Linked DNA regions of Homo sapiens: region 2 is linked to region 1. The links come from fine-mapping of genetic effects on gene expression. A gene starts in region 1. The other region holds a variant in brackets. All regions are shown on one strand. Distances are between the middles of the regions. Region 1 holds the start of LINC02175 (long intergenic non-protein coding RNA 2175). Region 2 has its middle 14 kb from the start of ARHGAP17.

Region 1 (5,260 bases):
CAAAACTGACTTCTAGGAGCTTGCCTGGTGCTGTGAGCCAGGCCGTATGTTTTTGGAAGCTGGCTGGTGCCCACAACAAGGCCATGTTGTTCTCCTATTGGACATAAACAATCATGCAGACCACTCACACAAGGACACTCTGCAGTGGTGATGATAGGAGATGACACGAGACCACGTCATCATTCTGTGTAAGGACAAAAGCAAGGTCACTGTGCCACCCACAGAATACCAGACATTCCCTTCTCCCAGCTGATAGGAGTGACTGTGGCTTCTTTACACATTGTAGCTTTAGCCCTACTCCAGCCAAACCTCTTTCTAGAAAAGATACCGCTACCGGATGATAGAATTTTCCTACCTCCTATCAGCACTCGATCCAGAGCAAACCCCTGGACCCTCCCCCAAATCACCCAGCCAAAGCCCAGATCCTAAAGGTCTAACATCCTCTTACTGATAGGCTCCTCATGGTGTGAGTCTTCCCTCCTTGCAACAAGTAATAAACCCAACTTGCTTAACTACAAAGTGTTTCATGTGGTCTTTACTGGAGGACATTCACAACTGTAAGAGTAAAAAAGGATGGTTAAGTTTCTTGGGGAAGTTAAGGGAGTCTCATTCTGAGGGCTCCCATTTTCTATGTTAAGCAATAGGTGAAATTATCTTCTTTCTTTATTTTTTGAGATGAGGTCTCACTCTGTCACCCAGGCTGGAGCCCAGCAGCGTGAATATGGCTCAATGCAGCCTTGACCTCCTAGCCTCAAGTGGTCCTCCCACCTCAGCCTCCCATGGAACTGGGACCACAGGCTCTCATCACCATACCTGGCTAATTTATATATTTTTTTTGTAGAGATAGGGCCTTACCATCTTACCCAGGCTGGTCTCGAACCTCTGGCTCAAGCAATCCTCCCATCTTGGCCTCCCAAAGTGCTGGGATTACAGGCGTGAACCACTATGCCACAGTTGAGTTTAGAATGTTTATTTAAAATCTTGTGACACTGAACTCAATGACTAGTTCTCGGAAAACTTACTTTTTAATAGTGTATTGTGGTGTAAGGCCTGAAATTAGGATTCATATCAAATTCTGTCTTTACATCCATTTAAATCAAGAGGGCCTCAAATGGCTGAACTCCAAGCCTCGCTCCCTGTCTGCTTCCGCAGATGAAATTCTCTGGCTAAACACTCTCCTTATTTTAGGGATCAGACACAGAGCCTGCTTATCCCCAAACAGTAGGCTTCAGTTCCCTGCCAGCTCAAGGACGAATTATTCAGACAAGCCAGTCACACCCTCCCGTGGGAACCAGGGCTCACTCTGCACTTTTGTTACTACAAAGCCTGCCTCCAGCAGCCCCTCCTTGTTACCGTGTTCCGGAGTGTAGCCTCCACATTGCCCTGCATAGTGTGCAGGGTCCTTCTCCCCTGGACTGGAGTATCTGTGACCAGTCAGCTGCTGTTGATTGCATCCGTCCTGCATCAAGTGTTGTGTGTTCGGCCATCCCCGTATCTCTGGGGGTGGGGACAGGGGCGGGGGCAGGAGCGTGGGGGGAAGGAATCCCTCTTTCATCAATGGAGTAAAGAGTGTGAATAAAACGATTGGCATCACAAACAGTGTGGCCCATCCTTGATTGAGGACCCCTGGTTAGCTTTAACTAGCTGCTCCTTTACTAAGTAGCTGGTTTTGTTTGTTTGTTTATTTATTTATTTAGAGACGGAGTCTTGCTCTGTCTCCCGGGCTGGAGTGCAGTGGCGCGATCTCAGCTCACTGCAACCTCCTCCTCCCGGGTTCAAGCGATTCTCCTGCCCCAGCCTCCCAAGTAGCTAGGACTACAGGCGCCCACCACCACACCAGGCTAATTTTTGTATTTTTAGTAGAGACGGGGTTTCACCATACTGGCCAGGTTGGTCTTGAACTCCTAGACCTTGTGATCCACCCACTTCAGCCTCCCAAAGTGCTGGGATTACAGGAGTGAGCCACCGTGCCCGGCCTAAGTAGCTGGTTTTATAAGGCGGCCAGGACTATTGAGAACATCACTGCCAGTTGCTGGCCAGCTTGCCCTTCAGCTAATGAGTTTTGTTATCTCAGTAGGTGTTGCCACTTCTTCCCACCCTGACGAACGTTAATGGACTGTATCTCCTTGTGAGGTCCCATCAGGTGTGGCCCGTGTCGGCCAGGTGGTTTCCCAGGCTCCCACCTGGGGGCAGCAGCAACACGACATCCTAACGGGTGGGTGCCTGAGTTCCACTAGAGTGAGGCTAGACTCTGTGGTCTTTGGTCTAGCCTCATGACCATCGCTCCATCACCGGCTGCTTGGGACAGCCAGGCAGACACTGTTTGGGAAAGTGTTCCAGCATAGTCCTGTGGATAACCCTTTTTCCTTTCCCCAAACACCAGGGTTTTTGGAACCATCACCTGGGAAGATTTAGGAATGGCTCCCTGGTGGTCTCCTAACAGCCTAAAGACCCCATGGGCTTTTCTTGGCGGTGTTGCTTATCTGCATGCCAAAGGACCAATCCTGTGGGCAAGGGGCTCGATGGCCCCACCTGGACCCTAGACAAAATGAACGTACTAGGGGGATCCCAGCACTGAAGATTTGCCTGGCCTTCCTGGGGGAGCAGTATGGCCGCCCACGGAGCCGGCTGCTGGTCTCCCTTTCCCATAACCTCCCGGAAGATCCACACCACGAATGATCTGATGGGGACAAAAACCCCGGGACTCGAGGGACCGTTGCGGCGGACCCTTAAAACACCTGGCAATCCCATTAAATTGAAACATGGTACATATTTTGCTCTTCTAGTTTTGGCTAATACGTTCTATTTAAAGGGTCTCCCAGCCACAGTTTGCCAGCGGGCAGGCGGCGCCGCAGGAAGTGACCGGGCAAGAACGGGGGTCGCCGCCCAGCTCGGCCTTCTGGTCTCTGCGCCCTCGGCCTGGGGCTCCAGGCCACAAGGGGAGGCCGTGCTGGGCGGGCCCGAAGGGGGTGGGCGGGGCCCCGGAAGAGACGTGGGGGCGGGGCCAACGGACCGCGGAGGCGGAGCCGCTACAGTCTGGGCGCTGGAGCGGTGGGAGCAGCGCTCGTCCGCCGTTGGGGCCCCCAGCCCGCGCGCGTGAAGCAGCTAGCCGACCAAGCCCCGGAAGGCGAGTGCCGGAGGGGGCGGGACAGCTCCTCCGGGGCCAGCGGGCACCAGGCTTGGGGGCTGAGGCCCAGCGGCCCGAGACCAACTGGGCTGACCGAGGCCGCCTCCCCGCCAGCCCTGGGGTCCACTGCCCGGGGAGCAGCTCCCTTCCCAGGTCAGACTCGGGCTTCATCCTCTCTTGCCGCGCGCCGAGCGGTTTTCAACTCTCACTGCTAGAATTCCTCCAACCACCCAGGATAGCAGGACCGAGATACATGGCCACCCATGACCCGGAGCGTCCACTTCCAGGGACAGGCAGTGGTGATTGGCTTCGGTTGTCATCTGTGCCATCTGTCCATGGTTCGAGAAGCTGCTGTTCACGTTTTGGGGAGGATCATGGTTTGAGGGCTCCCGTGGTAGAATTTGGGGAGCTCTCATAGGCAGAAGGCTGAGAAAAGTTGGTGCTGTGGGAAGTCAACTGGCAGCCGATGGAGTCGGGACCCGGGAGGAATGGAAAGGGAACCCAGATAGGAAGCTACTGCAGTAGGCTCAGAGAGGTGATGACGGCAGGGCTAAGACAGCGGCCTTGGGCGGTGACTGGGAAGAACGTTGAACACCGTGTTTGGGCTGAAGAAAAGAGCAAGGGAAGAGGTGAGGAACTTCAGGTGAGGGTTGATGTAGATGTTACTTACACAGGTAACAGACATTCTTCACCTTTTCATTGTTTTACAATGATTCATTCTCTCTCTCTCTAACATATAATTGTGATATTTTCACCTGTAGTCCCAGCTGCTCTGGAGTTTGAGGCAGGAGGATGGCTTGAACCCAAGAGGTGGAGGCTGAAGTGAGCCAAGATCGCGCCACTGCACTCCAGCCTGGGCGACAGGGCAAAACCCTGTCTCTAAAAAGAACTTTTTAAAAAAGCACCTGTAGATTTAAGCACATAATAACTACACTTTTGTCTGTTTTATTATGATATCAAAGTTAAATTTATGATGAATGACTAACTGGACAAAACTGAGAGCAACCACCACAGAGGTGAATATACTGAATGTATAACACTCTCTAATAATTTTAAGAACTCCGCTCTAATGAGCAGATATCACAGAAAGAGACTTTTCAGATGAAATACCGATGACCAGGAAATCTGTGAGACCATTTTAAAAAATTCGAAGTCATTGAAGAAATGCAAAGCTTCCAGGCTCCACTTTTCACTGATGAAATTGGCAGAGTTTGGGACAATGAGATGTTGCTGTCCCGGGAGTGCGGATGGGGCTGTGTCCTGTGATGGCGGTGGGCACTGGCACTCTTGTCCAGAAAGACATTCACCACTGTGGTTCAAGAAGCACCTCAAAGGTCTTCACCTTGGTCCCTTGTCCACCTCTGCCCGCGGTCTCTCCTCCTTTCAGCCTCCTCTTTCCCACACAGTCCCTCCCGCCCTGGCTTGGTCCCCTTTCTTCTGACTGGGTCAGGCATGTGGGTGACTCTTTGACTTCCAAGGCTCTGTCTACTTGGCTTTTTTCTTTCACCTGTTCTGCAGAATAACAGCCTGATTCGTTCCTCTTTTTGGGTCCTTCACTTCCATACCTGGGATTCGGGGCGTGGCCCAGAAAGACCCTGCAGTCTTGCAGTGTGGGGCTGCCAGCATTTCATGGCCTCCAAGCTCAGCTGGGCTGAATGAACGCTGCCATCCAGCGCTTGGCTCATTTTCTGTCCCATTTTCCTGAGTGCTTTTGCCAGACTTACACTTTTCTGAAAGCTACTCCACCCTACCCCAGACACACCCTCTCTCCTCGGATGACCTGCCTCCTAATTTCCTGAGAAAACTGGACATGGCCACCTTTCCCCAGTGTCTGAGGCCCAGGTTGACCCGTGGTCATGGTCGCTGTCACCACCCACCTGCCTGTATGACAGAGTGAGACCCTGTCTCAAAAAAAAATAAAAAGAATGCCTCATGTTAGGCTGGGTGTAGTGGCTTATGCCTGCAATCCCAGCACTTTGGGAGGCTGAGGCAGGAGGATAGTTTGAGCCCAGGAGTTCAAGGTCAACCTGGGCAAGAGAGGGAGACCCTGTCTCTACAGTTAATTTTTAAAAATTAAGGCAGGGCATGATGGCTCGTGCACGTAATCCCAGCACTTTGGGAGGCTGAGTCAGG
Region 2 (5,492 bases), 38 kb before region 1:
ACGGTGAAACCCCGTCTCTACTAAAAATACAAAAAATTAGCTGGGCGTGGTGGCGGGCACCTGTAGTCTCAGCTACTCGGGAGGCTGAGGCAGGAGGATGGCATGAACCCGGGAGACAGAGGTTGCAGTGAGCTGAGATAGCCCCACTGCACTCCAGCCTGGGCAACAGAGCAAGACTCTGTCTCAAAAAAAAAGAAAAAAGAAGCATCATGCCTGTAATCCCAGCATTTTGGGGAGGAGGATTGCTTGAGCCCAGGAGTTGGAGACCAGCCTGGGCAGCATAGGGAAACCCTGTCTCTACAAAAAAATTAGCCAGGCACGGTGGCTCATGCCTTTAATCCCGGTACTTTGGGAAGCCAAGGTGGGTGGATCACTTGAGTTCAGGAGTTCAAGACAAGCCTGGCCAATGTGGTGAAACCCCATCTCTACTAAAAATACAAAAAATTAGCCGGGCGTAGTGGTGCACACCTATAATTTCAGATACTTGGGAGGCTGAGGCAGGAGAATAGCTTGAGTCCAGGAGGCGGAGGTTGCAGTGAGCCAAGATTATGCCACTGCACTCCACCCAGCCTGGGCGACAGAGCAAGACTCTAACTCAAAAACAAAAAAATTTTTTTTAATCAGCTAGACATGTTGGCACATGCATGTAGTCTCAGCTAGGCACACTCATGTGGGTGTGTCCAGAGGCTGAAGTGGGAGGATTTCCTAAGCCCAGGAGGTAGAGGCTGCAGAGTGAGACCCTGTTCAAATAATAATAATAATAGAAAAGTAAAAGAAACTCAATATCTTCCATTATAGCCTTCTTATAACCCAAGGAAGAGGCCTCAGAACCATGACTGATCTCTCTCTTTCTCTCTCCCCTGTATTTTTGAGACAGAGTCTCACTTTGTCACCTGGGCTGGAGTGCAGTGGCGCAACTTGGGCTCACTGCAACCTCCACCTCCCAGGTTCAAGCAATTTTCATGCCTCAGCCTCCTGAGTAGCTGGGATTACAGGTGTGCACCACCACAGCTGGCTAATTTTTTGTATTTTTAGTAGAGACGGAGTTTCACCATGTTAGCCAGGCTGGTCTCGAACTCCTGACTTCAGGTGAACTGCCTTCCTCGGCCTAACAAAGTGCTGTGTCTCTCTCTCTCTTTCACACCCCCTTCATATCCAATGAACCAATGAATATATCACATTTTGTTCCTCTTTTCCCTGTCCCCATGTCTGTGGTCCATTCCTTCCTGTCCTTATATGGACTGGGGCAATTGACTCCTTACTGACCTTGCTGGTTCCACTCCTGGCCTCCCTTGAATCCATTCCCCACACCGCCATGAGGGTGGACTTTCTGGCATGAAAATCTGATAACGTTGCTTACCTACTTTAAATTATTTCAGGAGTTTCCACTGCCTGGAGTCCAAACTTTAACAGGGTATTTGAGGACTTGCCTTTAGAGCCTTGCTTTCTACTCATAGACCACCCTCCAGCCACGTGTCACTTCTTGCAAACCCCAAACAGACTATTACCCAAATAACTTTAAACCCATAAGCCTAATCATAGCAGGGTGATGCCTTCAACAAAGTTTGCACTAGAAACATTTTACTTTTATTTTATTTATTTATTTATTTTGAGACAGAGGCTCCCTCTGTCACCCAGGCTGGAGTGGAGTGGGGCACGATCTCAGCTCACTGCAGCCTCCACCTCCTGGGTTTAGCACCTAACCACGAGAAAGAGGACCACAGGGCGAGGTAGTCTTCAAAAACATGAGCTTTACAGATGTCCCCCAGGCTGGCCAATACAGGCAATTGAGGGACCTGTGTGGCACTGGCATAGGAATTGTGGGTCCCCGCTGAGGTGTGACTAATCGATGACTGTGGTGACAGGGAAACAGGAGTGGAGGTGTGAAGGGATGATGTGCATTTTCCACTTTGTAACTTAAATAAGAGTTCTTCCAGGAGCACGTATGCCTCTCGAGCCTGCTGCTTGGGGATATCAGAGAAGTGGAAGGTTCTATTAATGCCTTCTCCAAGAGCCCATGAGGCACTGTGGATTCTGAGATGTGAAATAAGTACCCTGATCACTACCAGTAATGTGTAGGACTTCCAAGAGTATATGGAGTGCCACAGTGAGACCTTATATTGTGGCCTTTGTATACGTAGATGTAGAGATATCTTTTTTTTTTTTTTTAATTGAGAGAGAGTCTCACTCTGTCGCCCAGGCTGGAGTGCAGTGATACAATCTCAGCTCACTGCAACCTCCACCTCCTGGGTTCAAGTGATTCTCATGCCTCAGCCTCCCAGGTAGCCAGCTAATTTTTGTATTCTTAGTAGAGACTGCCATGTTGGCCAGGCTAGTCTCGAACTCCTGACTTCAAGTGATCCTCCTGCCTTGGCCTCACGAAGTGCTGAGATTATAGGCATAAGCCACCACACCCGACCATTTTAAAAACATGAGTTATCTATTACCTCGGTTTATATTTTCAGTATTTATGAGGCAAGAGATTCCCAGAGTTCTTTATGAGCACAAAGGGAACAATTCTTAGACAATGGCCCAAGAGTTTGCTATAAATATGGAGATGGAGTCATTTGTTGGCTAGGGCATTGCTGTGGTCTGAATGTTTCTGTCTCCCTGAAACTCAAATGCTGAAATTTTAACTCCCAGTGTATTAGGATGTGGGGCTCTTGTGAAGCGATCAGGCCACGAGGGCAGAGTTATCATGAATGTGATTAGTGTCCTTATAAGAGAGACCTGAGAGAGACACCTCGCTCCTTTGACCAAGTGAGGATACAGCAAGACAGCATCATCTATGAGTCAGAAAGCAGGCCCTCACCAGACACAGAATCTGCCTTGACCTTGGACTTGCCAGCCTCCAGAACCATGATAAATAAATTTCCGTGGTTTATTTTTATGTATGTATATATGTATTTATTTTTTGAGACAGGGTCTCTCTCTGTCACCCAGGCTAGAGTGCAGTGGTGCAATCATAGTTCACTGTAGTCTTGAACTCCTAGACTCAAGTGATCCTCCCCATCTCAGCCCAGTCCCAAGGCTGGGACTACAGGTACACTCCACCATACCCAGCTAGTTTTTAAATTTTTTTGTAGAGATGGGGTTTCGCCACATTGCCCAGACTGGTCTTGAATT[C/T]CTGAGCTAAAGTGATCTTCCCACCTTAGTCTCCCAAAGTGCTGGGATTATAGGTATTAGCCACTGTGCCCAGCCATTCTTTTGTTTATAAGTCACTTAGTTTATGATATTTTGTTATAGCAGCCAAAATGGACTAAGATAGCCATTCAGTGCTTACTGCCTGAAGTGTAGCCACTTGGGCTGACAGTGTACCATGTTTCAATTTAGTGGGATTCCAGGTGGTTCTTCTTCTTCTTTTTCTTCTTCCTCTTCCTCTTCTTCTTCTTCTTCTTCTTTTTTGAGATGGAGTTTTGCTCTTGTCACCCAGGCTGGAGTCCAATGGCACGGTCTCGGCTCACTGCAACCTCCACCTACTAGGTTCAAGTGATTCTCCTGCCTCAGTCTCCTGAGTACCTGGGATTACAGGCACCCGCCACCACACCTAGCTGATTTTTGTATTTTTAGTAGAGATGGGGTTTCAGCATGTTGACCAGGCTGGTCTCGAACTCTTGACCTCAGGTGAGCCGTGCACCTTGGCCTCCCAAAGTGCTGGGATTACAGGCATAAGCCACCGTGCCTGGCTGGATTCCAGGTGTTTTAAGGGTATCCCCACCCCTGTCCAAATTCCCTCAAGTTACAGGGTTTTTTTGTCATCAGATCACATGTGACTCTTCTCAGAGGTTATGAGGAAAGGGAGGCCAGCAGCCTGCTCTATGGGTAGCCATCCTCCTCCTCCAGAGAATGCCAGTCAATCTACTAGTGTCGTGGTCCACACCCAGTAAGTTCACTTTGTCTAGAGTCCAACTAACCAAATTTCCCTGAATTACCAGCTGTTTTGAATCAAGGCTCACCCAATAACAAAGGTGTGCCAATACATCTGCCTCCACCTTCTTCTAGTCACCTTCAGTCTCACCGTCCAGACCTGTGGGATTAACATCTTGTGCTACTTACTGTTTGACATTATCCACTAACACCCATGGAATTTAGACACTGCCAAGCTGGGAGACAATGCTTGCGCAGTGGTTTGTATTACCTTTTTGGTAGAGGAATGCTCCAACAAAATGGTGTATTTCAGCCCATTGCTGCTATCCCTGGCAAAACTTCCTAACCTCAGCCATTCCCCACTGTCATTTCTGCCTTGACTGTCAATGAGATCTTGTGTCTCCACTGAATACTAAGCAAGCATTTGCTATCTGATCTCACCCCAAGGTGTATATTCTGGGTTTCTGTTATTTTGCTTTAAAAAAAAAAAACTTATATAGAAAGGCAGTTTCATTGGCTCGTGGTTCTGCAGGCTTTACAGGAAGCATGGTGCTGGCGTCTGCTCAGCTTGTAGGCAGGGAAGCGAGAACATGCATATTTTACTTTCTGTGTCTGAGTTGTTTCACTTAAGATAATGGCCCCCAGTCGCAAGGATGTTGAGTTCTGCATGGCTGGGGAGGCCTCAGGAAACTTAACAGTTATGGTGGAAGGGGAAGCAGGTACATCTTACGTGGCGGCAGAAGAGAGAGAGCTATTTTGCTTTTTTAAATAGGTGTGATTCAAAGTTCTTAAAGTATACCCATTGCCTGTGTCCAACACCTGACAGATAATCAAGTGGAATACAGTAGCATAGTTCTTCTTTTATTTATAAAATATTTTATAACAAAACTAGTAAAAATAGATGCATCTTGAATATGCATCATAATGAAACAGACACACGTGAACTCACTCCCACCTGAGAAACTGAGAATGTGTCTATGTGCTCCTTCCCTGCCTCTCCCTACCCTCTCGTATGCTACCGTCCCACTCCCTAGAGGTCATCAATGTCCTGACTTTTTTTTTTTTCTCATGTCTTGGCTTTTCTGTACAGTATTTTACCGTATATGTATGTTTCTCTAAACAACATTAGTTTTACTTGGTTTGAACTTTACAAAAGTGTCGTTAGACTTCCTTCTTTCACTGAACATCACGTTTCTGAAATTCAGCCCTTGATGCTACCTGAGAGTTCGAGTTCATTGATTTTTACTGCCACGTGGTTTCCCATTCTATTACTTTTCCACACGCTACTTCCTTTACTACATTTCAAAGGCGATTATGTCTCTAAAGCTCTTAGCACAGTCCCTGGCATGGACAGCACTTAACAAAATTTTGTTAAACTGTTGAGTGACAACGAGCCCAGACTGAACGTAACAGCTGACATTTGCTTCTGGCTGGATTCTCTGCCCTTAAAATTCCGTGACGAGTCAGAAGAAACCTGGTGGCCTCTCCAGGCACCTAAGACTACACTTCCCAGAAAGCATCGCGGTACTCCGCCACTGACTTTTAGTTTCCTTTCTCCGTCGGCAAACTTCCGGGTTGGGTGGGCGGGGCCAAAAAACTTATCCAATGAGTACCTTTGTAGGCTG

What was found. PIP is the estimated chance that this variant, and not a neighbour inherited with it, causes the effect. A credible set is the group of variants that fine-mapping cannot tell apart.
Region 2: its variant is the best candidate, but not a certain one, in a credible set for the expression of LINC02175 in anterior cingulate cortex (GTEx, PIP 0.58).

The regions. Positions count from the first base shown.
Region 1 is chr16:25,063,891-25,069,150 of GRCh38, forward strand. LINC02175 (long intergenic non-protein coding RNA 2175) reads left to right here and starts at 2,997. Exons shown (of 2, transcript NR_135197.1): 1 at 2,997-3,756; 2 at 3,889-5,065. RefSeq lists a silencer at 2,900-3,289.
Region 2 is chr16:25,026,165-25,031,656 of GRCh38, forward strand. No RefSeq gene overlaps it. Among named protein-coding and RNA genes, the nearest start is that of ARHGAP17, 14 kb to the left of the region's middle. RefSeq lists an enhancer at 5,303-5,482. The variant C/T (reference allele first, on the strand shown) is at 3,127.